Regions from separate parts of the Homo sapiens genome. Here regions 1, 3, 4, 5 and 6 are each reported to be linked to region 2. Evidence: microRNA targets listed by miRTarBase, many of them from high-throughput screens and not tested one by one. Region 2 holds a microRNA gene; each other region holds the end of a gene's coding sequence.

Evidence for each region. The annotated mature microRNA hsa-miR-4498 reads UGGGCUGGCAGGGCAAGUGCUG and lies in region 2 at 2,129-2,150, opposite strand. An mRNA with a match to its seed (bases 2 to 7 or 8) in the 3' UTR can be bound and repressed. Matches are read on the target gene's strand: a 7mer-m8 pairs with bases 2 to 8, a 7mer-A1 pairs with bases 2 to 7 and ends in A, and an 8mer does both.
Region 1: miRTarBase lists STAC as a target of hsa-miR-4498. Seed matches in the 3' UTR shown: 7mer-m8 at 946-952 and 7mer-m8 at 1,344-1,350.
Region 3: the mRNA of NAA40 is a reported target of hsa-miR-4498. Seed matches in the 3' UTR shown: 7mer-m8 at 888-894 and 7mer-m8 at 1,618-1,624.
Region 4: miRTarBase lists ADGRL1 as a target of hsa-miR-4498. Seed matches in the 3' UTR shown: 7mer-A1 at 914-920, 8mer at 1,348-1,355, 7mer-m8 at 1,621-1,627, 7mer-m8 at 2,347-2,353, 7mer-m8 at 2,399-2,405, 7mer-A1 at 3,009-3,015 and 1 more.
Region 5: the mRNA of SLC7A1 is a reported target of hsa-miR-4498. Seed matches in the 3' UTR shown: 8mer at 872-879 and 8mer at 4,208-4,215.
Region 6: miRTarBase lists SERPINH1 as a target of hsa-miR-4498. Seed matches in the 3' UTR shown: 7mer-m8 at 903-909.

The regions. Positions count from the first base shown.
Region 1 is chr3:36,545,441-36,550,524 of GRCh38, forward strand. STAC (SH3 and cysteine rich domain) reads left to right here. Exons shown (of 11, transcript NM_003149.3): 11 at 751-2,567. The coding sequence ends at 849. Among named protein-coding and RNA genes, the nearest start is that of STAC, 170 kb to the left of the region's middle.
Region 2 is chr12:120,153,345-120,158,428 of GRCh38, forward strand. It overlaps MIR4498 (microRNA 4498), which reads right to left and starts at 2,155; the gene lies at 2,090-2,155. It overlaps GCN1 (GCN1 activator of EIF2AK4), which reads right to left. Exons shown (of 58, transcript NM_006836.2): 26 at 4,505-4,686; 27 at 3,568-3,648; 28 at 3,117-3,260; 29 at 2,248-2,375; 30 at 1,897-2,086; 31 at 1,626-1,696; 32 at 400-565; 33 at 1-63.
Region 3 is chr11:63,953,691-63,958,774 of GRCh38, forward strand. It overlaps NAA40 (N-alpha-acetyltransferase 40, NatD catalytic subunit), which reads left to right. Exons shown (of 8, transcript NM_024771.4): 7 at 282-359; 8 at 648-3,629. The coding sequence ends at 789. Among named protein-coding and RNA genes, the nearest start is that of NAA40, 17 kb to the left of the region's middle.
Region 4 is chr19:14,146,491-14,151,490 of GRCh38, reverse strand. ADGRL1 (adhesion G protein-coupled receptor L1) reads left to right here. Exons shown (of 23, transcript NM_014921.5): 23 at 1-3,748. The coding sequence ends at 618. The region is part of intron 1 of ADGRL1-AS1 (ADGRL1 antisense RNA 1); the gene reads right to left. Among named protein-coding and RNA genes, the nearest start is that of ADGRL1-AS1, 12 kb to the right of the region's middle. RefSeq lists an enhancer at 2,870-3,613.
Region 5 is chr13:29,510,117-29,515,200 of GRCh38, reverse strand. SLC7A1 (solute carrier family 7 member 1) reads left to right here. Exons shown (of 13, transcript NM_003045.5): 13 at 618-5,084. The coding sequence ends at 721. Among named protein-coding and RNA genes, the nearest start is that of MTUS2-AS1, 25 kb to the right of the region's middle.
Region 6 is chr11:75,571,541-75,576,624 of GRCh38, forward strand. It overlaps SERPINH1 (serpin family H member 1), which reads left to right. Exons shown (of 5, transcript NM_001235.5): 5 at 241-1,243. The coding sequence ends at 543. Among named protein-coding and RNA genes, the nearest start is that of MAP6-AS1, 9.1 kb to the right of the region's middle. RefSeq lists an enhancer at 4,967-5,084.

The DNA of each region.
Region 1 (5,084 bases), not on the chromosome of region 2:
CAGGTTCTGTTTCTGGGGAATCCAACCTAAGACAAGGCCTGTCATCCATGGAAGCAGGTGAGGCAAGAGAAACTCACAACACAACAATAGTTCTGTTCATAAACCTCTTCTAATTTTCATCTGCCCACATCCACCCTTCTATGCCCTTCAGTGGCCAATGAGTGGTGAGTGGCAAGAGTATCCAAATGAATGTTTACCAACCCCTTTTTAAAGTCTAGCATAGGTGGCCTTACTTTAGAATATGGGAAATGTTAGCATCTATTTGCTTGAGGCCAGGAGTGAAATAGTTCCCTTTGACTTCCTGATGTTATATGAGGTGCATATAAAATTCTGAGCACATGACAGGAGTCTGCTGAATGATAGCTATTATTTTGGTCCTTTAAAATAATGTCCTGAGAATTCATTGCATGCCACATGCTAGGCTCCTTGACAAACATTATTATCTCATTCTGTCCTCACAGTGACTCTTCAGAGGGTCACAGTACTATTAATCCTCATTTTATTGATCCTCATTCATAAAGCTAAATTTCAGAAAACATTCAATGCCTGGGCCTCATTCCAAACCTAGGTTTTTGCCTAATTTTTTATCAAACCTTTTTCTCACTGTGCTGGTTTCCCACCCTAAAACTGCTCTCCCTTTTCCAGTTTGTTGCTCCTGCAACCTCAGTCAGCAGGGATTCAAGCTGCAGGTTCTAACTTCGTTCTTGCTGACAGTAAAGTATTTTGTTTTTTTTCTTCCTTGGCATTCAGATCTGCGTGAGTTCTGAAGAAGAACAAGATGGTTTTATCAGAGTCCTCAGTGGAAAAAAGAAAGGCCTCATCCCCCTTGATGTACTAGAAAACATCTGATTGCTGGCTCCTCCTCCGTTTGCAGTAGGCAAGCTCTGCTGCGATGCCTCTGCCTCATCTCACACTGCGTCAACCCAAAGGAGCTGCCGCACTGACCCAGCCCCCCAGGAAACAGTGAGACAAGAATCAAGTATCTGAGACTGTGGAGTAATAGCCACAAAACAGAGGGCCCACTGCACAGCATATCCAGGCTGCCACAGGTGGGGACGAGGCTGAGAGAGTCAGCAGGCAGAGCCAGATGCCATGCTTGGCAGCAGCAGTAGGACTATAAACCACAGCTGTCCCCCAGGATCCCACTCCTTTCCTGTCTGTGTGGTGTAAGTTAACACACTGGAGTGTGCTCCAGTTTGCAGGGTAGCCCAGTGCAAGGTTCAGATCCATGTAGCTAAGTATTATCCTGCTTCCAGACCTATGTCACCAGTACCAATCAGTCAGTGTCATCACATTTCAGGCCCCAAGCAATCTCTGTGCAAAGCATCAGAAAGACCTGCTTCCCAGCCCCCAGCATTCCAGTGCTCTCCAGGCTTCCTCTCTTTGTGATTGTGCTGTCCAGAGTGTCCAGCTTGTTCTTTCTTTCTCTTCAGTCCTCTGAGTACATCTGGTGGTGTGCATTAGATGTGAGGGCTATGTTGACATGGCATCACCTCCAAAGACCTGACCTGCCTAAAGACTGATGACAGGCCATCCTTCCTGCTGTTCTAGGTACTGGCCTGGGTGACAGAGCAGGACATGAGACATAGATACAGTGGGGAGGAGAAGTGGGGAAAGGTGGAGCAGAGAGTTCTTACTTATTGAAGATTATACAGCCCTTTCGGTTATGAAGTCCCTGCTTGAAGGCAATGGACCTGGGGAAGAGACTATCACAAAAAGTCTCCATTTTCATTTTACATCCTCTCTATTGGAGGCAGCACTTTTCCCTCATGCTGTCCTATAGGACTCCACTTTGAAGGTTGTGCCTACGTTGCAGGGAACTAGGAACATGGAGGGGAACCAACAACAGCATCTTAGAAGAAATGTAGCCAAATTGGAGTCCATTCTTCTTTAGGGCAGTATATGAAATCCTAGCAGATGTAAAATGGAAAAGAATCCTAATGCTTCTTCCTTCAGAAAGTAGAGGAACTAGGGGCCCAATTAGCATCATCTAGGGGAATCTCTATTACTCTGTACTTATACTAATGTTTACAAGAATGCAATATACTGTGATGCCTTCCTACTCAAGCCTCCTAGCATTCAAACTTCCATCCTATTAGTCATTAACATGGTTAAACTTCAATTCACAATCACCTTGGAATCAATGTCAGTTTGATTTATTTTGTTACAGAGCAATAAAATCATTAGAACAATGGTTTTTAAAAGACTTAAGTGGATGCATCCTATGCATGTAAGCATTATTTCCCAAACCAAAGCATCATTCATCTCCATTTATTTCTTTTGTTCCCGCTCAGTGTGAAGTTGGGAACTGAGAGGGGATGGCTGCTGGTTTCACAGAAGTTTGGATGCCTTACTCTTATCTTAAAGCCAGCATCCAGAATTTCCTCCCTCTCTGATGCCACATGCAAAACCAGGTGTACGATGTCAAGATGGATTCTTTGAGAGCCAGGGTAGATCATATGACTGCCTTTCTGTAAAATTGGATGCCTAGTACAAATGCTCTTTGCCTCTAATTCAGTATTCCATTTAATAAAAACAATACAGTGGCTGGAAAGGAGCATCAGAAACATGTGTCCTGATCTCTTCTTTCTGTCATGATATCCATTAACTTTTTGGTACAATGATGTCACATCATATGCATGTTTAATTAAGATGAATCTTAAAAATGAGTTTGCCTTTTACAGTTGAATAGAAGGAAGATGTGGTATCTAGCCTCCAAGGTAGTCTCCCAAAGATCCCTACCTCCTCATATTCTTTCCTTTGTGTAGTCCCTTCCCACACTGAATCAGGGCTGGTCTTATGTGACCAATAGAACACAGCAGAAGTAGTACTACAAGGCTGTCTTAGTCTATTTTCTGTTTCTATAACAGAATATCTGAGACTGGTTAATTTATAAAGAAAAGAGATTTATTTTGCTGACAATTCTAGAGGCTAGGAAGTCCAAGAAGCATAGCGCTGGCATTTATTTGGCTTCTGGTGGTGGCCATGTGCTGTATCATAACACGGCAGAGAAGCAGAATAGAAAGTAGGCATGTGCAAAGAAATAGAGAGAGACCAAACACAAGGAGCAGCCTTGATTTTTAACAACTCACTCTTGAAGTAACAAACCCAGTCCCAAGAGAGCAAGAACTCACTCACACCCGTGGGATAGCATTATCTATTCATTATGGATTCTCCCCATGACCCAAACACCTCCCATTCAGCCCACCTCCCAATATAGCCACAATGGCAATCAAATTTCAACATGAGTTTCAGAGGGGACAAACTATATTCAAAACATAGTAATGACCCCATCTCAAATTGCATCTGAGGTTAAGTTTTAAAAGCAGCTTTAGCCTTGATCTCTTGGAACACTCACTGTTGGAACCTTGAGATACCATAAGAATTTCAACTACCCTGAGGCCACCATGCAGGAAAGACCCTGTGGAAAGACTACATATTTCATCATCTGAGGTGGCAGACATCACAGAGCAGAGATGAGTCGTCCCTGCTGAGCCCTGCCCAAGTTACAGATTTATGAGCAAGATAACTATGTGGGGATTTTTTAAGTCACTATGTTTTGGAGTGATTTGTTATACAGAAACAGATAACAGAAGCAGGGGTTTTGTAATTTAAGTCAATGTTAGAAGAGAAAAATGCTCTTTCTACACAATCAGGCCCAAAAGCGTTGCAAACATCAAGTGTTAGCAGGCAATTATCCCTCTAAATACAAGATATGTAGTATTCCCTAAAGATCTGGAGTCATCCAGACCTAAGGGAAAAAGCAAGATGTTCCTCATAGTATAGATTTCCATGAGTGCTTACACAAACACAGAGATTTTAGGAGCCACAGCTTTTTTTTTCTTGCCTGTCTGCAGAAATTAAAAGCACAAGGATAGCTACGGCCTACCAAAGTCTTAAAGGTTTGCAAGACTCAGAAAATGGCTAAAAGAAGGACCATAATTTTTGAGTGGAGAAGAGATGAAGATCTCAGGAGATACTCTGGTGAGGAGACAGGGAAGGAGGGGAAGTGTCCATATGAAGAATAAAAAGGGGACCTGAGGGATATGCTTTGTAGTGTACGAAAACAGCCTTGTACCCCCTTACCTCTGCCCCTGCCTATAGCCAAGGGATGGTACATACCTAGCTGCACCAGGGAAGATATGCCCTATACTTCATCACTAGTGCCATAAGACTTTACTTCTATTATAGTAAATTTGAAATGAAGAACTGAGTGAACCTTCCTCAGGGCTCCAGAAGGTGGAGAATAGAACTCCCTTTACTTCCCATCACTAGCAGACATCTACAGCACCTCTCACATGGGCAGCAGGGTGGCAAAGAGAGCCCATGTGTAGATATCCAGATTGCTAGATTTCACAGACAGATACCCACATGGCTAGATTTCACAGATGGTTGATTTCACAGACCACTTTTCCTTCCCAAATACACAACAAACACCACCACCACCACGACCACCCATACACACACACTAATTCACTCCCATTAAGAGGAAGGGTCCAGCATTTGGGTTGCATATTTAGAGCAGGTAGTGGAGAGAATATGGCAGGATCTATTAGAGTTAGTGTTCTTTGCTATTAAAGAGAGAAAAAACCAGTGGGAAGATCACAACACCTTGGTGCCAAGTACTGTTAAAAGACAAAAGAGCCAGTTGTCCAGGAAATTGGCTACTCCAAGGAGGAGAGAGCCAAGAAGGAAATCTACTGGCCAGCCTAAGCCTAGAGCCAGGTCCAGTCAGAAATGCAGCTGTGAAAAAGTGGTGTGTGGGAGAAAAAAGCTGAGATTTAAATAAAGTGAACTTGACTTCTTTACTCAGGACTTCTCAGAGCCTTTAATTTGCTAATTCTCATAGTAAATCTCCAAAAAGGAGATTTAAAACTGTGGATCACCTATAAGACTCTCCTAAAACAACATTCCAAGGAACATACTTTGGGAAATTCTGCAGTAAAGCATTCTCATATCAGATCACCCAATAGCCCCTATGCTTCTACTATCCCCTCTCTTCCTACATCTCACTGAAATACTTACAAAGGGCAAAAGCACTCAATCCTAATGATAAGAATGAAGACAATCTATTCTGGGATCTG
Region 2 (5,084 bases):
GGCATCATTGGGCGCGTTCTTCAGGAACTCCTCGAATACTGGCAACAGCGAGTTGACGTTCTCCTGGAAAGCCAAACCCCTCAGAGCCTCAGGTCAACCCTACAGGCTGCATCTGGGGACAACAGTCCCTGCCCTGAGGACCAAGACCAAGTCTAGCTCTGGGACAGGCATCCTGACATGCCAGCCAGTGGCTCTTCCAGTTTTCTGGCAGGACTGCCACAGACTTAAAAGAATTTAACACACTATCATGGTCTTTTTGGCTCAAAGTGCTCTGCCAGGACTCTTGGCACTCAGCATTTCTGGCCCCTGCTCAGCCCTAGCGCCTGCCTCCCGTGTCTCCTTAGCGGGCTGGGACCCCCTTACCTTCCCGTGGGTGTTCCCTGGCTGGGACCCCCTTACCTTCCCATGAGTGTTGAGCGTTGCGAGGGCTGCATCCAACATGCACTTCCGGACATCTGGGTGTCGGTCATTGAGGGCATCAGGGACAAAAAACTGAAAGAGTGGCTTCACCTGAGAGCTGTCCAAATACTGGGAGAGCTTGTTGAGGGCCAACGCCAAGCCACACCTGGGAAAGAAGTGGGAGCACATCAGGAGGGGCAGTCAGGGGGCCTCCTCTGCCAGTGGAACCTCTGCTGGTGCACGGCAAGGAGAGGGAGCTTGCCTGAGGCAAACACTGTTTTGGGGGCAGAGAACAGCCTGAAGCCCACCACCCAGTGCTCACCCAATGTTCTGGAACAACCCACTTGTCATATGGAGACTTGCCATCTGCCCTGATTTTACCTCCTACTGGGTGACCAGCCCTGTGTTGGTTTCCCCAGAGAGGAATGTGAGTGCAATGCTCACCCCTCTACCTGCAAAGCAGGTTGTAAGAGAACACAGAGGTAAAAGAACCAGATGTAGAGGCCTGTGGAAGTGAACACATTCTCCAAGGGCAAAGTGTTGTTACTCTTTCCAGTCATGGAGCAAAGAATCTGTGTCCTATCCCTGGCTGATGGTCTGGAATGAAAAATAAGCCAGGATGGGCCCATACACCACCCTACACTGACACACAAGGCCTCACGGGAGTGGACACGGCCAGGATGAGCCATTCAGAGAACTAACACCCTTGCGTGTTTTGAGCCTGCTCTGTGGGAGGCAAGTGTCTTTCAATGTCCCAGTTGCTCCCAGACATCTGTCTAATCCTCCAACTGCTACTCATGGGCTCTGTGGAGAAAGGCTGGTAGCTTCTGTTATTGTGCCCTGCATATAGATGAGGAAACAGAGGCCTGGGGAAAAGGAGAAACACGCTCACGGTCACGCAGCTAGTGCAGGAGAGGACACTCTAAGGAACTTACTTAGAGTTCATTTTAATTGATTTAACTTTAGCCACATGCGGTTAGTGGCTACATCTTGGACAGTACAGCCTAGAGAGAGGTGAGGAGGCAGGTCAGAGGCTCTTCTGAAAGATGGTGCCTCACACGGTCCAATCCCACCCCTTCCAGGGGCTGATGGAACTCAGGCCTCCCCGACTCTGAGGGAGGTCCTGCTCTTTCATTAACCCATGCTGCCTCCTCACAGCACCCACCCAGCCAACCTGCCACATCTCACAAAGCTTGGAGTAGAACGAGGCTGAACAATTGTTATACCTGGCTTCCCACTGATCTGGAGGAGATTCTGAAATAACTCGTCCCAAAGCATCCAGCACTGGGGGCGGCCGCTGCAACAGACAAGTTGGTAAATGCTTTGCAACGGGCAGATCAATGACCTGGGCACCAGGATTGTGAGGCAGGAAACTAGCCGCAGCTACCCTGAGCCACCGTGAGCCCCGAGATTCCTGTCTGGAGCAGTAGCGGGGTGAGCAGAGACCCACCCAACCGCACACACCCAGACTGCATCAGGGCTGCACAGGTCACTCACGTAGAGCTTTTCCTGGTAAATCTCCATGAGCCTGCCCATAACCTCCGCCGCCTGCCGCTGGTAACGTGCCACTGCTTGGGAGAGGGCTTCGGCCCCTGCCTGCCTTACAGCCGCCTCATGATAGATCACGTCGTCAATCAGCAAGGAGCAGAGGTCTGGCTGCAGGTCTAGGCCCATCATTGACCAGAGCCTGTGGGAGATCCAAGGCAGGGGCTGCTTAGACAAAGATCTGCAGCACTTGCCCTGCCAGCCCAGCCCTTCTTCCCACTGGAGGCTGAGCACACTGGGTTCAGTTATTTCCTAAAGGAAGAGAGGATGCAGCAGGAGAAAGCGACATGCTGGCTCTCTCACCTCTCAGCCAGCTTCCGGATCTCCTCCTCCTTGTCAAACTTGACCACCCAGAGTCTCCGCAGAAGGTTCAGGCCATTCTTCTCATCAGTATCAGGTGCTGGCAATACCATGTGGAGTTCCATCAGCCCCTGGAAGGGGTGGGATTGGACCGTGTGAGGCATCATCTTTCAGAAGAGCCTCTGACCTGCCTCCTCACCTCTCTCTAGGTTGTACTGTCCAAGATGTAGCCACTAACCGCATGTGGCTAAAGTTAAATCAATTAAAATTAACTCTAAGTAAGTTCCTTAGAGTGTGAGGTGGTAAAATGTTTTTTTAATGTGAAAATTAAAACGTTAAATAAACCAGACAGATAAAAACCTCAGAAAAAGCGTATTCCTTTTGTTCAAAAAAATTTTAAGGAAAAATTTACTATATTGTCATCATTTTCACATTTTACCAAAAGCCAGTGAAAACTCTGTCACATATCAATAGCAGGAGGCTGTGGATCAGCAGGTAGGAACCACTGTCTTACCACTACAAGGGGATGCTTCAGTTTTTGGTCCAAAAGCCATGAAGAAAAACCAAGTACATGGCAGTGGGCTAAAGAATTGAACTCCTCCTGCAAGTTAGCTCTGTCCGTGGAAGTACCAAGGTCCACATTCCAGTTTAAAAATTAAGTGAAGTGTTCCAAGGTAAAGGAAAAAATACAGTGATACATCATGACTGCTTAGTGTTCTGATTCTCAGAGAGACCCCAACCATGTGACTTCTTCTCTTTGCCTCTAGGCCTCCCACCAGAGTGAGGGACATTCTCTCAAATGCCCATCATGCAATTTGCACTTGCATAGAGTGACAAGGGACACTGCAGTGGCTCTGAGACTGAGCACACACCCGGAGCACGGTTTCCCGCACGCTGGCACACGGGGACTGCAAGGCACAGAGCAGCACGTCCACCTCCTCCTGCTCTGCAAAGGCACAGCCATCATCACCACTGCTGCTGGCACACAGGGTGGTCAGGGTGTCTGAAGCCAGAACCTAAGGAGAACATCAATCCACTGGTTCAGTCAGCAACTCATTTACTACTAGGGGGCCAGAGAGGGATATGCACTGAGAACACCCACCCCTACAGCACTGCAAGGGCTAAGACCCCAGCTCCAGTGGCAGGACCCAAGCAAAACCCCTCACTAGCTAACAACAGTCAGGCTGGCTCTCTAAAGCAGTCTTTCTACCAAAGTCCAAAAGTAAGGGCTGAAAGGAAACTAGGACTCCACCCTTTACACTGGGACTTGAGGTCTGGGTCACGAACTGAGTCACAGCAACAGCCAACTGAAAACCACATCACCTGTAAGCGAGGCGAGCCCGTCCCGATCACCCAAGTCAGAAGACGCAGCATGGCCACGCGAGGCAGCAACTCCGGGCCATTCTAGGAGAGAACGGCAGGTAAGTCGAGATGAGGCTGTGGGGAGGTCTGTAACCCAGGCGGCCAACGGCAGGGCATCCTCTCACCCACGGGGGAACATTCTGGATCATACAACCGGCCCCACCACAGAAACCTCATTAAGTTTACAACTAGGTCCACAGGTGCTAACCCCAGTCAACCATGATCCTCAGGAACTAAAAACTAAATTCTGAAACTTGCTTGAAATTCACACTATGAAATCCAGAAAGACCGTAAATATATGAAGAGACACTCAACTTTAAATGAAATGCAAAATAAAATGAGATTATCATTCTTTCACTCATCACTGACGATATTAATACTATCTGAGGTTGCATTAAGGCTTTGAGAAAAGAAAACTCTTGGTGAGAGTATAGCTCAGAATATGCCATATAATCTAGTAATTCCATGTCCAATGAACCTGTCCTAAAGAAATGCTCACACTGGTTAAGTAAGGGGCATATACATACAAGAGGGCACATCACAGTGCTGTTCAAAACAGGAAAAAGTTAGAAACAACCTTAAGAACTCATCAACAGGTAAAGAGTTAAGTAAAACATGGTACATCCATAGCACAGAATCTCATGCAGCCAACAAAGTCAATCAGGTGAACTGACATGTACTGGCATGGCAGGAGAGCCAGAGTCTACAATCACATGAAAGAAGCAGTCTGACCCGTTTTTGCCTTAAAAAACCCACAACACTGTGTGAGGCTGCTGTTGGTATAAACATACACTCTCTATTTCCCCACCAGGAACTGTTCATGAGACAAAACGTGTCCACAGGCCCTGCCTCCCTGATCCCCTTTAAACCAAGAGGAGAGCAGAGCTTCCCTGCCAACCTCGTCCACCCGCCCGGGTGGGGTGTTGGGGGAGGCCCTCAGCTGGGCTTGGACAGTGAGGATCTGAAGAATCTGGGCCATCCACTCCTCCTCCTCCTCACTGTGGTGGGGCATCTCCGTCAGCACCATCTTCAGAAACGGGAAGACTAAGGAGAAGGCTGGCGCGGACAAGGGCGCAGCACCTGTGAGAGCGAGAAGCAGATAAGATTCTGCAGGCAGGGCAGGGACCCGGGCCACTGCTGCCTATTTCTATCCTCAGGGAAAGTAGGGAACGGATGGACCAGAGGCCCGTTCTGACACCTGGAAGCACATGGCACGAGGACAGAGACAGCAGCTGGTAGTCCAGTTCTAAAACCAATTCTGCTTCTACTGCCAAACACTGCCCAGTTCCAGGATGTGAGAGTTAAAACAGAGATGGGGACACCAGTGACAAAAAGTAAACCCTCAACTGGGCTCACTGCAATTCACAGACTACGAAGGTTCAATTCAGAAATCCTCCATATGGTCCAATCCCCCAGGCTCAGGAGGCCCTGGGTGACGCTGTGCCTTGAGCAGCATTCCTGGCACCAGCTCACACCGC
Region 3 (5,084 bases), not on the chromosome of region 2:
CTCACTGCAGCCTCTACCTCCCAGGCTCAAGTGATCCTCTAGCCTCAGCCTCTGGAGTAGCTGGGACTAAAGGCACATGCCACTATACTGGGCTGATTTTTTTAAATTTTTAAATGTTTTGTAGAAATGGGGTCCCACTATGTTTTCCAGGCTGGTCTCTAACTCCTGGGCTCAAATGATCCTCCCACCTTTGCCCCTCAAAGTGCTGGGATTACAGGTGCATGCCACCATGCCTGGCCATGTTTCTCTTTCTAAAAGGCGTTTGCTCTGCTTTCTTCCAGCACACAGATGAAGAAGGTTATGTTAACAGTATTTAAACACAATCATGGTGCCTACCAGTTCTTCAGAGAAGCGTTGCAGTAAGGAGCTGGGTGTGGGCCCTTCTGGGTGGTAGGTGGGCCTGCCCAGGGCCATTTTTCTGGTCCTGGCCCTCACTCATTCTGATGCCTGAGCTCATGGTCCAGTGGTCCATGGGGGTTCAGGTTCAGGGAGATGGTATGGCAGTGCTCTCTGATTTGGTCCACTGTCCACCTCCTGCACCCTCATCCTAAGGGTCTCATCAGTGTGGCTGGTAGAAGAGTTCTCGGGCCAGGGAGGAAGGCACTCAGCTGCCTGCCACCAACCCTTTTCTCCTGCCTGCCTTGCAGATTTGAAATTGATGACTCTTCCCCCAGCATGTCCGGTTGCTGTGGGGAGGATTGCTCCTATGAGATCCTGAGCCGGAGGACCAAGTTTGGGGACAGCCATCACTCCCACGCGGGTGGGCACTGTGGTGGCTGCTGCCACTGAACTCTCAGAGCCACTTTCAAGTCACAATGCTCTCTCCTAAGGCCTTTCCTCTTTCCTGGTCTCACTGTTCACCGGGTGTCCTCAGAGCTGTGGCCTCCCCAGCCCTGCACGTGCCAGGCTGCGCCCTGAGAGCACAGAACCCTGGGGAGAAGTGGTATCAGCTGCTCCTCCTCTCCTAGGAGACCAGAGTGCTAGAAGGGAATGAAAGGGAGAGGGAAGAGTAGGTGGGGCCGGGCAGTGAAGCTCATCCTCCACAGTGGCTGCCTCCTCATTTGGCTCCTGGGGCCTGCAGTGGAGGTTCTCGCACCTCTGCAGCCCCTAGATTCCTGGCAACCTCCCCTCCCCTGACACATACACACTTGGACAAATGGAATGTTTATGTCCACCTTTATGAAAGTTCTGGAGTCCTGGGTCTGGGGTTTGCTGGTCCCCAAAGAGGAACACACTGGGTGTAAGATCTGGGTGTAGAGGGCGGCTTCAGAGAGACTCACGCTTGCGCAGTTGGAATTGCTGTTAACGGAGACTGGGAAGATCTTTTGTGCCAAGATGCAGGGAAATGAAGAAAGCTCTTTCCAGCTGTTTTTATGGATTCATGGAGTGGGCTCATGTTGGGACCAGCTGACTCTGGGAGGAAGACTGCCTCTCCATCGCTGTCAGAGAGCCTGAAAGGACCAACAATGAGGTGTTCTTGGGACCCGCCATGGGGATGATTGCTTCTCTAGGCTCCTGGATGTTGCTGCATTCTAAGCTTAACCTCCTGGTCTCATGGCAGTGACTTGAGCTTTTGATTCATAGAAGAAAGCCAGAGGTTCTGCTTGTTCTTGTCTGCCAGCCCTCGTCGTTCTTTCTCCTCTGCCTCTCACCTCTACCCCAAATACCTCTGTTCTTAGTCTCAAGGGGAGAATAACATCAGGGAGCCCCTCATCTTCCCCAGAAGGACTTCTCGTTCCTCATGTAGTTAACTCCATTGATTTTCCTATCTTGGTGCTGATAGCTCTCTAAGGGTAGGGCACACCTCCCCACAGCCACCCTCCCTCTTCAGAGAGCCCCCAGCCAGCAGCAGGCCCCTCTGCCTGCACTCCTCAGGCTTGCCCCTCGCTGCCTCAGTGAGGCACTAGTGCCACTGCCGTGGCCCAGCCGGGCCATAGCTCAGGCTGCAGCAGAAATGCCTCTCAGTGGCCAACAGTTGCTTTTCTCTCTGGTGTCACCCTGTGGCAACAGGCTGGAGCAGGGGAAGGAGAAAGCCTTCCTCTTCTCTCATAGGATAGAAAGGCAGGCTCAGAACTAATGCTCATCCTGATCTCTAGGCCTTGTTCCTCTTCCAGGGAAGAAAAGCCAAATCCTTATCAAGGAAAAAGCACCTAACAGCTCCCTTTGGATATCCCTGAGCTCTGCTGTGGGGAGTATCATAAAGGTTCTAGCCTTCGTGAAGTTGTTCTCGTGGAGGTCTGTTGGTCCCTCTGACCTCAGCATCTGCTCACATCCCACCCTCTGCCCAACTCTGGCAGTCTCTCCTGGCAGATCTCCCCAGAGTGGTCCTTGCTTCTCACCTGGATTCCTGCTTGTGCAGGAGCCTGTGTACACAGGGCCTCCCTCACCCAGCCTGGCCCCTCTGCTGAGCACTTTGCGCTGCTCTTGATGGGCAGCAGTGGGACTGGGAACTCCTTAGAGAGGGCCTTGCAGCTTTACACTGGAATAAGTCTGCCTCTGCCTCTGCCTCACCCTGCTGGCTCCTGGTGGGTTTCATCCCAGGCAGAGTTGACATTGCTGGAGGGGTTTGGTGGACTCCTAAGAATCATGAAACCACAGGAGCATGTTTAGGAAGAGATTTGTCTCTGGTCCCTGTCTCTGAAAGGACACAGATGCTAAATATTTATTGTCTTAGATCATGGATTCCTGATACCTCTCACTCAAGGGGACCAAAAGGGACCCCCCCGTGTTCATCCCTTGTAAGGTGAGTTCAGTCTACGTTGTCTCTTTCCAGTCACTGGATACGTGGCACCAACTGGTCAATGGGTGCTTGGTGCCATACCCTGCTCACCCTAGTCTCTGCAGGCCATGTCCTGAAGGGTTCCTCAGGAGGTCGGGACTAGGGTGGGAGAGGCACTATCTGAGACCTGCAATCACTCTTGTTGGTCTTGAGCCCATTCATTTCCAAAACATCCATCTTTCTCCACTTCCCCCAGGTCTTGGTTTTGAGAAACAGCAGGCATGGCTGAGTGCGGTGGCTTACACCTGTAATCCCAGCACTTTGGGAGGCTGAGGCAGGCGGGTCACCTGAGGTCAGGAGTTCAAGACCAGCCTGGTCAACATGGCAAAAGCCCATCTCTACTAAAAAATACAAAAATCAGCCAGGCGTGGTTGTGGCCTGTAATCCCAGCTACTCGGGAGGCTGAGGCAGGAGACTCGCTTGAACCCAGGAGGTGGAGGTTGTGGTGAGCTGAGATCACGCCATTGCACTCCAGCCTAGGCGACAGAGTGAGACTCCATCTCAAAAAAAAAAAAAAGAGAAACATAGCAGGCCTTTTTTACCAGGCTTTTTGTGTTTTGTTTGTTTGTTTGGAGCATGTTAAGATTTTTTTAAGATTTTTAAAATTTTAGTTATATCCACCCTATTTCAGGTTATTTTTGTTGGTGTCAAGTATGTATAGGACATGTGAATGGTTCTTTTTAATTTTTTTTTAAGAGGAAATTTGGAAGATAAACTCCTTGATATATATATATATATATATATTTTTTTTTTTCTTTAGCAGCTTGTTATCACTGGAATCAAAGGGAAAAAGTGATCTCTTCTTGCATTGGTTGTATTTGTATGTCACAAATAAAAGACACTTTGGTCAGCTGCTGAGATGGCTTCCTGATGCTGGGGCACCATGGGCAGCGTGGATCTGGGAAGCTCTGGACCCTGAGCCTGTCCCAACATTGGGCCCGAACATCAGGAGGTGCATAGCTATGATAGCCCCATGCTGGAGAAAAAACTCAGGCTGTCCGGGGCAAGCAGCCAGAGCTGGGAACAGAGACCAAATGTATGTGTTTGTGCCACTTCCCAGGAGTTCTGAGTAGAGGCCAAAGGTGTTCTGAAGGGCGCCTGCTTTGCATCTTGGAGAGAAAGTCCCAAGCCAGGCCTTGTGACATTTGAAATCTGTGTCCAAACGTAAATTCCAGTGCCCATGTGTGGGAGGTGAATAGACGAGAGTGCTTCTTTCCTCTTTGACTTCATTGGGTTACTCAAAATATTCTTTGTCTCTTAAGATTCCTGCCCTCTTCCATCCATTCACAGAAGACAAGGCTCCAAGGAAGGGGAGCTCATGTCAGGGCTGCTGGGGCAGGAGAGTTATGAGCTGGTGGAGGCTGTGACCCCCTAGTGTGACAGATGGAGCTGTGCAGGTTGTTCCCCAAGCAGGGCTCCTGCCAGCCCTGGCCCGGGGGAGCTGGAGCTCAGTACTTTCTGTGGACAGTGGAGGGGCTGCCCCATTGTACTCTGCTTGGTGGTCTGCATCTGCTGGAACGGGGAGCAGGAGACCCTGATCCACATGGAGTGTTCGTGCCCTGGCAGAGCAAGCATCTGGGGAAAGAGGAGCCAGGGTTATACCTGTTCCGTGGGTCCCAGCTGTGGCATGTTGTGGCCTCTCCCCTGTGGGCAGGGGCACACCCGCAGGTGGTTTGTGCAGCTGTCTTATCTTTGAGGCCCAAAGAAAGGCAGCACAGCCCTTGGGAAGGGAGAGCAATTTGCCTGGCGAATCACATGGCCAGTTTCCCATGTGACAGAATTCTGCCCCTCAAGTTATTTGTTCCTTGAAGGCTGTGTTTTCATCCCAGGCAGAAACTTCCTGGAATGGCCATCCCCTTGCTGAAGGGTGAATGGCCACAGTTGGAGAGCTTGGGGCCATTCCTTCATCCCTGCCGGCTGAGTGCAGGGAGAGTTGAGGTCTGCACCCATTCCTCCTCCTTCTCCACCTTCACAATGGCCTGGGCCCTCCACAGTGGCTGCTTCAGTGAGGTGTGGTGTGACTTCTGGGTCTGCCCCATGCTGCTGCCACAGCTTCAGTGGGCAGGCGGAGCAAGAGGCACCACCGCTGAGCAGTAGACAGTCCAGAGCCTGGGCTGGACTGAAAGGGACTATGTCCCCAGCGGGAGGGACGCCACTCACCAGATGGTTTCTGCCGCCAGCTTTGAAGGTAGTTCAAACTAGGGGGCAGGCTTTTCTAGTTTTGGCTAGAATACTCCCTCCCCAAGTGCAGCAGAGGTTGTTCTATACCCCTGAGGACAGACGGGGTCTGGGGAGAGGGGATGTG
Region 4 (5,000 bases), not on the chromosome of region 2:
CGAGGCCGGAACCTAGCCGATGCGGCGGCCTTTGAGAAGATGATCATCTCAGAGCTGGTGCACAACAACCTGCGGGGGAGCAGCAGCGCGGCCAAGGGCCCTCCACCGCCTGAGCCCCCTGTGCCACCTGTGCCAGGGGGCGGGGGCGAGGAAGAGGCGGGCGGGCCCGGGGGTGCTGACCGGGCCGAGATTGAACTTCTCTATAAGGCCCTGGAGGAGCCTCTGCTGCTGCCCCGGGCCCAGTCGGTGCTGTACCAGAGCGATCTGGACGAGTCGGAGAGCTGCACGGCCGAGGACGGCGCCACCAGCCGGCCCCTCTCCTCCCCTCCTGGCCGGGACTCCCTCTATGCCAGCGGGGCCAACCTGCGGGACTCACCCTCCTACCCGGACAGCAGCCCTGAGGGGCCCAGTGAGGCCCTGCCCCCACCCCCTCCCGCACCCCCCGGCCCCCCCGAAATCTACTACACCTCGCGCCCGCCAGCCCTGGTGGCCCGGAATCCCCTGCAGGGCTACTACCAGGTGCGGCGTCCTAGCCACGAGGGCTACCTGGCAGCCCCAGGCCTTGAGGGGCCAGGGCCCGATGGGGACGGGCAGATGCAGCTGGTCACCAGTCTCTGAGGGCACCTCATGGACCAGGGGCTGGTGGCCCAGGCCAGGGAGGGAACCCTGGGCAGGGCTCTGGTGGGAGAGGGAGACAGATGGAGGCAGTGGCTGGTGGGCCACTCTCTCCAGGTGCCCCTCAGCCATGGGCCCTACAGTCCCCTCAGGGGACTCTAACCTGGGGGCCTGAGGTGCCAGGGTTCACAGACAGGGTTTCCCACCAGCCACACGCACCAGCTCTATTTGGGGGAAGTGTAGTGAGGAGGAGCCCAGAGGACCCCAGGGGAGTGAGGAGGGAGAACTTGGAAGGGTGCAGCCCACTTCCAGACTCTCCCCTCTCCCACCCTTCTACCCTGTGAAGGGAAATGAGGGCTTTAGTTTCCTGGGCAGGGAGGGGCAGCTTCTGAGGTTGCCAAAGGCCCCCACTGGATGGAACCTGTTAGCTGCTCCTCTCCGCAGCCAGAAATGCTGCCGGCTGCACCCAGAGGGAGCAGTGAGGCAGGACAGATGGACAGGTTCCTCCTGCGCTGTAATTCCCTGCTCCCTGGAGACTGGGAAAAGGCCGCAGGGCAGGGGGACTGGGCGGTGGTGGCTGGTGGTTTAAAGGTTGAACTTTCTCTGAAGCTCCTTTCCCCTTGCTCTTGGTCCCTGCCCCGCAAGCAAACCTGCCCCCTCTGCCTCCCAGTGCACCCAATGACCCCCTCCCTTGGGGCGACTCCTGATGAAGCACAACTCCCCGCAGGGCCCCCAGCCCACAGGGGTGGCCATATTTGGGCAGTTCCCAGTCCTGTGGGCTCGGCTATCTGGGGAGCAGATTTTGGGTCTGGATCTCCCTGGGGAGTGGGTCCTGGGCTTGGATCTTTCCCTAGGGGGCCCTCTTACTCCTTCCTCTCTCCTCCTCCTTCCCCATTGCTGTAAATATTTCAACGAAATGGAAAAGAAAAAAAAAAGACAAAAAAAAAAAAAAAGAAAAGAAAAAAAATCTCATCACTTGAAGCCACCGGGAGCCTGCGGCCCGGGCCAGCCCGGGCTTTCTCCGGAGCAGAGCAGCGCTGCTGGCCTGGCAGCCAGGACTTCTCCGTGTACGTGCATCCCCAGTCCCCGCCGGGGCGGGCGGGCCGCCAGAGCAGCTTTTTACAATCCAGAGACAGAAAACAAAATCTAGATGCAACAGCGAAACAAAGAACCCATTTCCTTCCTGGCACCCTCCTTTCCTGCTCCGCCTGCCCGGCATCATCAGCCCTTCTGGGGCGTGTACCTCTCACTGCCTGCCCCAGGACCAGAGGCCTGTCTCCCCCTTCCCTCCCCACCGGCCCGGGGGAGACCTCTTCACACCCAAAGATGCTTTGTCAAGATGGCTGCGCTGTCCCTTTGAGTTCCTGCTTCTTGTATATTGCTCTGGGGACTCTCGCCGGGGAAGATGGGGCTGATTTCCCACCTAGAGAGGTTGATGGCAGAAGGAAAATGGGGAGGCACTGGGGTTGTGGAGGGCATGGGTATGGCTGAGGAGGGTGCTGGGAACGGCAAGGCGGTCTGGGGGATGGGGAGGGGCAAAGGTGAGAGATCACCTTCCCTATCCTCCACCTTCCCGCAGGGAAGACGAAGCCAGGTGCCAGGGCTGGGGTCGGGACACCCATGTTCTGGGCGGCTTGACCCCAAATCCCAGACCCCGGAAGCTCCAGGCTCGGGATGTGTCCTGAGCACCTGTCCCGGCCCCCTCCTCTCCAGCCTGTCAGGCCAGCCTCCCCAGCCCCCTTCCCTCAACTCTAGGGGCAGCATAGCCCCAGGCCACCCTAGCCCAGCCCCTGCATTGCCGTTTCCCCAGAGGTGGCCCCTCCACCTCTGCTCTGACCTCTCCCCATCTCTCTGCCCCTCCTTTTCTCACAAGTGCCATGAGTTTTCAAACATCTTCGGGTCTCAGCCTGCTGCTGCCATGAACTTTGTTGGGTTAAGGGGGAGGGGCTCTAGGAAGGAACTGGGGGGAAGGGGACAGGTAGGTGGCTGGAGGGACCCTTTTTGCTGCTAGAAAGCCCCTCCCTTCTCCCGGGGAGCTGGGGCTGGCTTGTCCCCATCAATTAGGGGAGAAGGGGTCAGACCAAAGATGGTGGTTTGTCCCGTGTAAGGGAACAGGTGTGGGGAAGAGGTGGGGTTGGGTTCCAACTCTGGCTTTTTCTGGTAGAAAGGCCTAACCCATTACACCAGAAGACCATGGGTGAAGTCTAGATGGGGAGGAGAAGTGAGGCCAGGGACAGTCTTGCCAGACGACTCTGAGGAGGGCAAGGGACAGTTCCATGGCCCTTCCCGGACTGCACTAGGCTGGGAGCTCTGTTGTGTGGAGGGGTGGTCAGAGGTCTGTGAAGAGCGGGCAGGAGGCATGAGCAGGCGAGGAGCTGGCCTGTCCCGGGAAGCAGCCCAGCCTGTGGCTGCCCCCGACACCAGGAGGAGGGCCAGGAGAGTTCCAGGGGGCTGAGGCACACAGAGAGGCCAACTTCCTCCCTGCCCAGCCTTCCTTGTATCTCTCCAGACTCGGACAATCAAAGGGAGAGAGGGTGTATCGGGTCCTGTTCCAGCCGGCATCGCCGGGTGGCTTCCAGGCCTCAGAGCTGTGTGGCAGGGCCCCCTGCTGGGGCTGGACATCACTGCAGTCCAGTGCAAAGCCGCCCCCAGAGCCCAGGTGTCCCCCCAACCTAACCAGACCTGGTGCCTTGACGCCCCCACCCCAGCTGGGACGGTACAGAGAAGGGTCTTGGTTTCCTCTCCTACTCCCTTCCTTAGGCTCCTGAACTCGTTTGCTCCTAAATCTTGTTAATTCTTTTTCTCTGGATTTTGGTTTCTTTTGGCTTTCCCTTGCCTTCCCCTTTCTCTGTCTCCAACACTCTTTCCCCATGTCTTTCTGGCTGTCTCTATGTTCCTCTTCTCTTATCCTCAACTTTCTGTCCATTCGGGCCTCCTCCCCACCTCCCACGCCCCAGCCCCTCCCTCCTTGGTCTCCTTTTCGATATGCCAAACCAATTTTGGGTCGAGTGCATTTAACGAGAACAAAACAAAAGGCTCATAACAACAAGAACGTTTCAGAAAAAAACAAAAAGTTTTAAAAAAATTGTTGAGTCAAAAAGTCAAACAATAAAGAAATTAAGATTTCTTGGAATGACAAGAGTGGTGTGACTTCTTGAGTGGGGGAGTAAGAAATGGGTGAATAGCTGGGCGCGGTGGCTCAGGCCTGTAATCCCAGCATTTTGGGAGGCCGAGGTGGGTGGATCACTTGAGGCCAGGAGTTTGAGACTAGCCTAGTCAACATGGTGAAACCCCATCTCTACTAAAAAGACAAAATTAGCTGGGCGTGGTGGCAAGCACCTGTGGTCCCAGCTACTTGGGAGGCTAAGGCAGGAGAATTGCTTGAACCCGGCTGGGAGGCAGAGGTTGCAGTAAGCCAAGATCGTACCACTGCACTCCAGCCTGGGCTATAGAGTGAAATTCTGTCTCAAAAAAGAAAGAAAGAAATGGTTGAGCAGATCTGCACAGGGGCGTCCCCATGGGCTCTGGTCTGCACTCGAGCATTCAGAACCCCTGGCAGAGGCTTGACAGTTATAGAATCATTCACGTTTATGAGACCTTGGTAAGTTCCTGGGCCTGGTGGAGCATTTCATGTGCAGTTTCTCTGAATCCTCACAAAATCCTCCCAGATGGAGACAGCGATTAGAGTTCCATTTTACAGATGGGGAAACTGAGGCTTACAGCCCTCAGATGCATGCCCAAGTCTCTCTGACCAGGCCACTGTTCCATGCTGTCTCACAGAAGCCCTTCTTGGCCCAGACGTCTGTCCCCAGGCTGTACTAGAGCAGAGCTCAGGAATTTTACACTGTGATGTCTCATTACAATTGCCATTCCTACACTCCCACACGCTACTGGCAGGGAGTGCTTTCAAACTTGACACACGGTGGAATTGCATCATGTGTATTTCACGTTGTCAGTTCACCAACGAACTGCCCATGCTCAGAGAGAGGCATAACTACTCAAACTACAAGGATCCTTTTCCGGGCCCCTCTGCCTTAAAAAGATACCTGTGTCTAGGACACCACCCACCTCCCCACAACAGCCACTCCTTCCCAGTCTTCATGGCTGGCTCCTTCTCATCTGACCTCCTAATGATGGGGAACCCAGGGGCTCAGTCCTTAGACCTTTTCTCTCACTCCCTGGAAGGTTTCACCCCATCTCATGGTTTGAAATGCCTCCGGGTGGGTGCAGTGGCTCATGCCTGTAATCCCAACACTTTGGGAGGCCGAGGCAGGCAGATCACGAGGTCAGGAGTTCGAGACCAGCCTGGCCAACAAGGTGAAATCCCGTCTCTACTAAAAACACAAAAATTAGCTGGGTGTGGTGGCGAGCGCCTGTAGTCCCAG
Region 5 (5,084 bases), not on the chromosome of region 2:
TGAGTCCTTGCTTTAAGGCCTGTTTTCCTGTGTCAGCCACACAAGGTGGCCCCAGCCCCTGGGCAGGTGGTAAGAAGCATAGGTCCTGGACCCACCCTGGAGTCCCGTGTGCAGGAACAGGCTGTGGACTCCTATGTGAAGTCCATTCCTGGGGCTCAGTGTCTCCTGCAGTCTGACGCTCAGTTATGTGGAGAAATGGGCAGTGGGACTGTCCAGGCTGAGAGCCTGGAGACCTCCAGCACCTGCGGGAAACCCCATCTCCATAGTGCACATTCTCGATACTCTCGTGGCCTCCGGGGGCATCAGGGGGCTAAGCTGAAGGACCCGATGGCCTCTGGTGGCCCTGGCCCAGCTGCTCTGTCTGCTCAGGAAACACCGCAGCATAAGGCCGTCCAGAGGAACGTAGGGCTTTGCCAGATGTCGAAGCAGACAGTGGCCTTCGTGTGGCAGCTGCTCCAGATGTGGAAAGGTCACAGGGGCCGCTGGCTGCGGGCTCATGCCAGGCAGGGGCAGGCCGCCTGAGAGGGTTTGCTGTGGGACCGCCCTGGGCTCTGAGCCCTGCCTGCGGTGGTGCAACCGGCGGTCTGTTCACGCCCGTCTCTGCTGTCGGCCCGCAGGCTTCATCATCTACTTTGGCTATGGCCTGTGGCACAGCGAGGAGGCGTCCCTGGATGCCGACCAAGCAAGGACTCCTGACGGCAACTTGGACCAGTGCAAGTGACGCACAGCCCCGCCCCCCGGAGGTGGCAGCAGCCCCGAGGGACGCCCCCAGAGGACCGGGAGGCACCCCACCCTCCCCACCAGTGCAACAGAAACCACCTGCGTCCACACCCTCACTGCAGCCAAAGGTGCAATTACTTGACCTGCAGCCCCAGCCCACCCTCGGCTCTGCAGCCGGTTCTCCGGGCCCTGGTCACCTCCAGACAGCTGCCTGGCCGGGGCCACTAGGCTGCGGCTGGCCACTGTGTCTCCTCACTTCTCTGAACAAAGCAGTTCCTCCCCTACCAGCTCAGCCCCGAGCTGCCGCAGCCTCAGGCAGAACGGAGGTCACCTTCTCTCCTTATCTTGGGAACCAGGCCTTCCTCCCGGGGACTGTTCTGGGATTGAAATTGTGCATACTCCAAACTTTCGCAGCCATCTTCCCGCTCAGCCCCAGACACCCAGCAATCAAGCCAGATGAGTACCACAAAACAGTGTGTCCCCAGCAGCTCCCCACCCCAGAGCCAAATGACAGTAGTGCACTTAAAAAGGAAAATCAGGCCTGTTGTCCTTCTCCGGTTGCATTCAGATGGGTCATTAGGGCCGGACCCTGCCTGCCCCTTGGCTTCTCAGGGCTTTGCTCTGACACCATGACAGCTGCCCGGGGCTGAGGGCAGCTGGCTCCACTCAAATGAGGAAGAAGGGATCACTCCCATTAGGGCCTGCTTTGCTTATGCATGTGTGTGCACATGCATGTAAACCAGGGACCTTCAGCTCACGGCCTCCAGGCCTGGGCCAGTTCTTGCTGCTCCTGCCGTCTCCCCCGACTGGCTGTGTCCTGAGTAACTGGAACATGAGACAGTATCTGCAGGACTGGCCCCATGGTGGCCGAGTCAGAAGTCTGTTTCCTGTGAGTCGCCACCGTTCACTCAGTCTTGCCCTCCCATGCTTTGGAGCCAGTCTGGTGGCTCCTGTAAGGTTCTCAAGGCTGGTGGCAGCTCAGTCTGGGGTCAGGACATGTCGGGGTCATGCGTTTCTGGCCCTGACATAAGCTGTCTGGCCTCTCTGTGACATGATGAAATTGAAATCAATCCACAGTCCATGAAATTGTGACACTCCACCAGATTAAGTTAGGGCATAACATTAACTTGGAAATGGCCATGTCATCACCCCTGCGGCTGTCCTATAGCTGAGATGCGTGGGTCGCAGGGGAGGTGATTTCTAGGCATATTGCTGTCCCTTTTGTGTATCTGTCATCCGGATGCTTCGGACCCCACGCCTCTGCAAGTGGGAGAGACCCGAGCATCCTCCCCACCCCCATAGCTCCAGTGCACGCCACCCCCGTCTTGCCTGGGTCGGGGCCTGCGGCCAGCACCATTTCACACACACTCCTTGTAGATGGGAGCCAGAGGAAACCTGAACGTGGGTGGAGCGTTCCACTGAGTCTACTTCAGGAGACAGAAGGCCCATGCTGATGGGGGAGGAGGAGGGATGTGGGCATTTTGGACACCAGGGGAAATGGAAATGCTGCTTTCAAAACTTAGTTTCCTTTCCATTTCTTCCTAGTCTGGCCTTTGACACAAATCTGGTAGAAAGAAGCCTGATAAATTGAGGGCACTTGTACCCTCCCTGTGCCCCCAGAAGGTTCTTGGAGAGAAGTGCAAGAATTTGTGAACACGGCGGTGGAGGGCGGGTGGATGGCCATGGGCTGAGCCTCCGTATCAGGCCTGCTCACCTTGCTGGGAGCTTTATTCTGATCTCATTTTGAATGTTCCAGAGGGAGCATCATAAGAGCCCAGAGCTCCGATTTCCAAAGAGTGATATTGACATTTATGGAGATTGGTGTTGTAACATATTTTGATAAATACTAACTTATTTTGTTGGGGTTTTGGTTGTCTCTTGTCTTAGGACCTGGTAGTTATTTGCTTGATTTTTTTTTCCGTTATTTTCTACATAGGCAAAGAGAATTCGAGGGATAGACAGTCTCCAAGAAAAGTGAAGTGGTGGGAGAGAATTGCTTTTTTCTTTTTTTTCTTTTCTCTAGTTTTTCTTTCTGGCTGAGATTTCCGTGCAAGACAGCACCCAATAGACTATTTAGAGTTGACATTTGACATTTTAATGGGCGCCATGGCTCATTTTGTAGATTGAGAAGGTGCGTCTCCCCTGCTCCAAGTCTCATCATGACAGCGTGCTGACAGCTGGGAGTCTGTGGCCTTCCTCACGCAGAGGCCTTAAAGCTGGACACAGAAGCACGCCTAGGCTGGGCAGGGATGGGACCCATGCCCCCTCCTTAGAGGACGGGCTTCCTGGTTAGGAAAGGACACGTGGGGGTGCCTTGCATAATAGTTCACTGGTCACCGTGCTTTTATGAGTAGTGTTTTTGTGCACTTGCCAGGGGTTTTCTCTCTGTGTGAGAGGGGAGTGATTTAAGCAATGGTGTCTGGAGTAAGCCTTACAATTTTAATAGACTTTTTCTTATCATATCCCTCATTTCTTTCCCTGAAATAAAAATACACACAAGCAAAAAAAAAATGATAGTTTCACATCTCTTAGTTCCCTTGCCCAAACAAGAATATTCTTAGTTCCACTGGCCAGGATTTTCCTACATAGTCAGAACTTACACATTACTAGAGGCACACCCACCAAGGAGTATTGTGTCTACTTTTATCTGTGCACCAGCCACAAATACCCACATTGGAAAGACCCATTTGTGATGGGTAAACATCCCTTCCTGTCTCCCACAACCCCTGTGACTGCCCTGCATGTGTTCATGACCTCCGAAGGCCCAAATTCATGAAGCAGCAAACCCAGCAGATCTCCACCCCCCTGCCTCAGGACCTCTGCTGAAGAGGGGGATGAAGTGGGTCTCCAGGGAGGCAGTGGGGGCCTTGTTGGCAGCTGGCTCGGGAGCCGGCTTACAGGAGGGCAGCTCTGCAGTTGGGAGGGGCACCGTCCGGAGGAGACCAGGCCTCTACACACCCCCCACTCTACTTATCATCCCTGCTCACACACCCTTGTCCAAGGCTTTATGCATCGGATTTATTTTTCCAAATCAAGAGGACAGTGATAGATGCATTTTCCCCAGGCTGTCTCAGAAAGGTCGCTAAATGTATACTGTTGTCAGAATTGCTGAGATCTCCCCCCACTTTTGGTTTTTGCAGCAGTAAAAACTCTTTCCACTGTGACTTATTTTCTCTCTCAGGCAGCCAGCCACCTGGTCCCTTGTGCTGACTCTAGCACAGTGGCCAGGATCCAATACGAGTCCAGGGGTGACCGCAGGATGGTGGGGGCAGCGGGCTTCTCCACCTACCCCAGCCACCAAGGCCCTGACGCACTGCCTCCTGCACCTTCAGCACATCCCTGTGCACAGCTGGAAGGGTGCATGGCCCGCTCACCTTTGTTCAGATGGGTGGAAACGCTGATGATACCAGCTCCTCCCTGCCGTGCCCCTGCCACGGAGCAGGCATTGTGAACTGGCTGGTGTTTGCAGTCCCACGTGGCATGGCCTCCAGCCCAACCCACAGTGGAGACTGGAGACAGGGCAATGAGTCTGGTGGGGGGCACGTGGACATGCCCCATAGGGGCCCCACCCAGACTTAACAGGCAAGGTCCTGGGCATTGCGCGACGCAGGACTCAATGCTAAAGCAAGCCTGCCTGGCTCTGTGCCAGGGCCCCTCTTCTGATTCACACATCCCATTTTTACACAGACCCTTCCTTCTTAATAAAGGCTGACAGTTCTGTTGGCAGCCAAGAACCCACACCATGAAGACAGGGAGTGAGGGGCCTTTGTGCCCAACTCCAGCACAGCTGCGTTCTGGGGTGTGTGAGAGGCATGTTCGTGTCTGTGCGCTGGTGGTCTCGTGAGACAGTTCCGAGGACGGGGAAATTGCAGGGTGGTGGGGGCGTGAGGCTTATATGTGGAACTGATGCAGAGTTCGCCTGCAGACGGATCTGGATATACACTATGTATAATTGTTACGTGTAATTTAAAATATATCTGTTTGCCATCGTCATGAGAAGATTATATGTAAGGCTCTGAAGGGAGAGGGAGATGTACATTCTGCCAGGCTCCTGGGGACCTTATCCGAGTCATGAAATTGATTACTGTTGATCCAGTGGTGCAAGAAGCTACACTCCATGTGTCATCACGCTTATGACTCCTAATGTATTTTTAAGGCAAAAAATGTCAGCCGACTCCATCTTCACCCCTCGATTCCTCGAGTCCAGCCTTTCTGTGCCAGTGCTTCACTGAGCCACAACGCTCTCGCCATCGGGACCCGGCTGGGCCTGGAGTCTCGGGGCACAGTTGCCATGGAGCCCTCCTGGGTCATTCTACAAATGTGCTGAGTGCCAGCTGAAAACCCCACAGGAGATGGAGTACCTT
Region 6 (5,084 bases), not on the chromosome of region 2:
TTTTTCTGAGTCTCAGCTTCCTCATCTGTGAAGTGGCAATTAGAAGCCCTTGTAGGGTTGCAGTGAGAATTGAGAAAGCTGTGATTTGAAGTGCCAGTGCCATGCCTGGCATACAGAAGGTGACCAGGGGGTGGTTCTCTCCTCTCTGAGGAGCGGTCAGGGTAGTATGGGGTGGAGGGTTTGAGGGTGGAGGAGCCTGGCAGCCATGGCCTCACCTGGCACACCTCCTTGTTCCCACAGAAACACCTGGCTGGGCTGGGCCTGACTGAGGCCATTGACAAGAACAAGGCCGACTTGTCACGCATGTCAGGCAAGAAGGACCTGTACCTGGCCAGCGTGTTCCACGCCACCGCCTTTGAGTTGGACACAGATGGCAACCCCTTTGACCAGGACATCTACGGGCGCGAGGAGCTGCGCAGCCCCAAGCTGTTCTACGCCGACCACCCCTTCATCTTCCTAGTGCGGGACACCCAAAGCGGCTCCCTGCTATTCATTGGGCGCCTGGTCCGGCCTAAGGGTGACAAGATGCGAGACGAGTTATAGGGCCTCAGGGTGCACACAGGATGGCAGGAGGCATCCAAAGGCTCCTGAGACACATGGGTGCTATTGGGGTTGGGGGGGAGGTGAGGTACCAGCCTTGGATACTCCATGGGGTGGGGGTGGAAAAACAGACCGGGGTTCCCGTGTGCCTGAGCGGACCTTCCCAGCTAGAATTCACTCCACTTGGACATGGGCCCCAGATACCATGATGCTGAGCCCGGAAACTCCACATCCTGTGGGACCTGGGCCATAGTCATTCTGCCTGCCCTGAAAGTCCCAGATCAAGCCTGCCTCAATCAGTATTCATATTTATAGCCAGGTACCTTCTCACCTGTGAGACCAAATTGAGCTAGGGGGGTCAGCCAGCCCTCTTCTGACACTAAAACACCTCAGCTGCCTCCCCAGCTCTATCCCAACCTCTCCCAACTATAAAACTAGGTGCTGCAGCCCCTGGGACCAGGCACCCCCAGAATGACCTGGCCGCAGTGAGGCGGATTGAGAAGGAGCTCCCAGGAGGGGCTTCTGGGCAGACTCTGGTCAAGAAGCATCGTGTCTGGCGTTGTGGGGATGAACTTTTTGTTTTGTTTCTTCCTTTTTTAGTTCTTCAAAGATAGGGAGGGAAGGGGGAACATGAGCCTTTGTTGCTATCAATCCAAGAACTTATTTGTACATTTTTTTTTTCAATAAAACTTTTCCAATGACATTTTGTTGGAGCGTGGAAGAAGATTGGATCAGGAGATTCTTACACCATTCTTCCCAGGGGACAAGGTCTCCTGTTAAGGCAGACTCGCTACTGATGGCTCATATCAGGCCCTGGAATGCTGGCAGATCGCTGGCAGATCACTGTGCAGACAGCGCCAAGTGGCAGGTGCATTCCGTGCTGACCCGGGAAATGGTTCTGGCTCTGGCAGCCCTGGAGAAGTAGCAGCTGCAGGACCTGAATGAGAGCACTGGACCTGGAGCCAGTCTTCAGCCTCTTCGCCTTTCTTTCTTTACCCTTTTTTTAAGATGTGAATCTTGCTATATTGCCCAGGCTGGACTCAAACTCCTGGGTTCCAGCGAACCTCCTTCCTCAGCCTCCTGAGTAGCTGGGACTACAGGCAGGGCTATGGGCATGAGCCACTATGCCCAGCTCCCCTAGCCTTTCCTTGCACGCTGACCTCATGCTACATCCAGGGCTACAGGTACAAACTCAGGCACACATTTAGTAAGTTGCCTGGCTTTGGGCTGGGCTTTGGAAGGAGATTGTGGGGATCCTTGCCCTTAGGTGGCCCGAAGTGTTGGATTTGTAGCAGGGGAGGAGGAGGCACCCAACACGGTCCTTTTTGACACAGTCCTCCGGTTGGATGCCTCATGGTCCTTAGGGCTCCTGACACCGTACCTTAGGGAGAGAGAGGGATGCACGGAACAGAGCCAGTGGCCAGGGAGGCAGAGGAGCAGAGGATATTGGGCTGGAGGCCCATTTCTGCTGCCTGCTGGCCTTTTAACCTAGGACAGGTCATTTTTCTCTCTGGGCACGTCCAGCTTTCCTCTGCCAAAGATTGTGACCTGGGGGTTGTTGGTTCAGGAAGGGACCCCTTACCTGGCTGAGCAATCCAGCAGTAGCCACCAAGATGTACATGGGTCTGCAGAAGGGCCAGCTGATTCACTCCCATCATTGCCACGACAGAGTTTCAGCAAGACTGCTCAGAGTCCCAGGGCCATCCTGTGCTTCGGCTCAATCATTCAGATCTCTATCCTCAAGGGGCTTTGTCTAGAGGTGGAGACTTAGGGATAGGGTACTCAGTGCTCACTGTGTTCCAGGCACCTGGATCATTCTGTTCCAGGTGTGCCACGCTTGTCCCCCTGCCTCAGGGACTTTGCACTAGCTGTCCTTTCTGCCTGGCAGGCGGTTCTTGTAGATGTTTGCAGGGTTGCTTTTTGTCATCCAGGATTCAGCGTAAACGTCTGCTCAGAGAGGCCTTCCCTGACCACCCTACACAAGCAGTCCCTCTCCCACCTCAGTTTCTCTACCATGATTTCTCACTTTACTGACTCCTTAGCACTATGAAATTACCCACTTAAGACTTCCCTGCCTGCCTCCCCTCTTAGAATGGAAGCTCCATGAAGAGAGGGTCCATGGCTGTTTGTCTATTGCAGCAAATCCTGCACCTAGCTTTAGCATCATGCACATATCGAGGAAGGCTCCCAGGAGGAGGTGATATGGGGGCTGCTTTAAAGGGTGAGTAGGCATTTCTGGATCAGAATAATGCTTTGAGTGCAACCAGCTGGTACGCCTTTGTGTTTTGCTCTTCCTATGTGCCAAATACTTAATATGTACAATTTTATCCAAGCTTCCTAACAGCTTGGCTAGTTAGGTAGGGATTGTCCCCATCTTACAGGTGAGATAACAGGCTGAGCAGTTAAGTGAGCTGCCTGAGGCCCTACAGTCAGTGGGGGCCGAGCTGGGACTAGATCCTAGTCGGTTGGGTAGTTGCTTCGCCACATAGGAAGGGCAGGAGAGGCCCCTAACACAGTGCCTGGAACCCAGCACTGAGCACAGATTCTAGTAATGAAGGCATGTTAACTTGCATACGATCTGTATCCATCTCTCTTAATCCTTGCAATAGCCCCGTTAGGTGGGAAGTCATCCTAACTTTACAAGGTGTAGCTCAGAGAAGGCAGAGACTGGGCTGGAACCCAGGCCTCCTGGCCCTGAAGTTCAGCCTGTGACAGCTCCCCCACCAAGTGGGAATGGGCAGTAAAATAAGCCAGGCCCGGGTGTGGGGCCACCGAGAGGACCCAAAGGGGGTCTTGAGGCCACGCTCCTCCATCCTGACTCAGGTGGGGAGGGTGGTAAGAGGTCTGTGCTGTTGCATCTCAAACACCCGTCCGTGAGGACTGGAGTTGCTGGTGTGTGAGTGGCAGTGCAGGTGGCAGAGGTGGGTGAGTTAGGGGTGGGGTGGGGTCTAGAGGTTGGTCCAGCCAGTGTTGCTGCCCCCCAGTGCCCCATCACTGCCCTGTGTGGAGCTTTCCTGCTGCCTGGAGGCCATTGGAGGGATTACCCTGTTATTCTCACCCTGGTGCTTGTTAAAGTCTTGGGAGATAATAAGCCTGTTGGATTGTGCGGGTCCCAGATGTGGATGCGGATTAGCCTTCTCCTGAGTGCCTACTGTGTGCCTGGCACTGCCATGTATGATTTCATTTACTTTTCAGACTTCCCTCCAGAGTAGCTATTACTGCTCCATGTTATGGACAAGAAAACTGGGGCTCAGAGAGGGGAAGTGACCAGCTCAAGGCCACCCAGCAGGACAGTGACAGAGCTTGGCTCACATGGGAACCCAGGTTTCCTGGCTGTAGAGGAAGGAGAAGTTACTGACGTGTGTGAGCTCCATGCTCCACAGTTTGCAGGGGGCGGTCACCCATCTTTTCCCCAGTCCCTGCAGCACGGGGCTTGTTGTCCTGACACTCCAGCTGTGACCTCTGCGACAGCATGCCCTTGTCTGCCTGTGTCCTGCTGCATCCCCGCACTTAACACAATGCCCGGCACACAGGAGGCGCCTAATAAATGCACCTTCTAAGGAAGCAGTCTAGTGGGAGCTGTGGTGTTTAGCAGCAGAGGCGTTGGAGCCTGACAGACCTGACGGGCGTCCCAGCTCTGCCACTTCCTAGCAGTGTGACCATGGGTCAGTTACTTACCTTCTCTGAGCTTCAGTTTCCTCAGTAGTAAGGTGGAAATGATAACAGTACTTACCTCATAAGGTTGTGGTGAAAGTTAAATGAGGTAATCCATGGTACTTGGCAAATACATAGCCAATAAACATTATTAGTAGTTACTAATAAGAGAAGGTAGTGATTCAAAATCATACAGCAGAGCTGGGATTTGAGCCTACCTCTCTGCAACTGTAAAAAGCCTGACCCCTTCCATTATGCCACAGTGCCTTGGGTTCAGGCTGGGCTGAAGTGTCAGGGGAGACTCCTGGAAGAAGGGGCTGGAGCTGGACGACAAGAAGGAAAGAAGCATTCCAGATGTGAAGAACAGCTGGAACAGAGGTGCAGCAGTTGCGATGGGCAGGGTGATCGTGGAACACAGGGAGGGGGGTGGTGAGGAGGGCTGAAGTGGGAGATGGAGGATTGAACTGCTACATGATGGGAACCCCCTGGATAAGGCACTCAGAGGGTCAGTGAGCATTATTAGAGGCAGGACAGATGGCCCTCGCCACTCAATCCCTCTGAATTTCCCAATCCTCTGTCCCGCCACTCCCGCTAACTCTACAGCCCCTCTCAGTTCTCACCATCTCCCCTTCCCATTTGCCCATGCTGTCTCCTCTGCCTGGTCCCAGGCCCCTCCCATCTCTGCCTGTTGAGCCCCCTCATCCTTAGAGGCCTATTTCAAAGGATACTATAACCCCCAGGGAACCTTCCAGGCCCCTAGACAGAAGCATGACAGCATGCACAGCAGCATCCCTTCAGGTGCCCTGGAGACACACCATCCTTCATGCATCTTGCTGCCGTCTTCCGTTTTCTCAAGTGTGACTTTTCTCAGTCTGCTCAGCCCCACCACG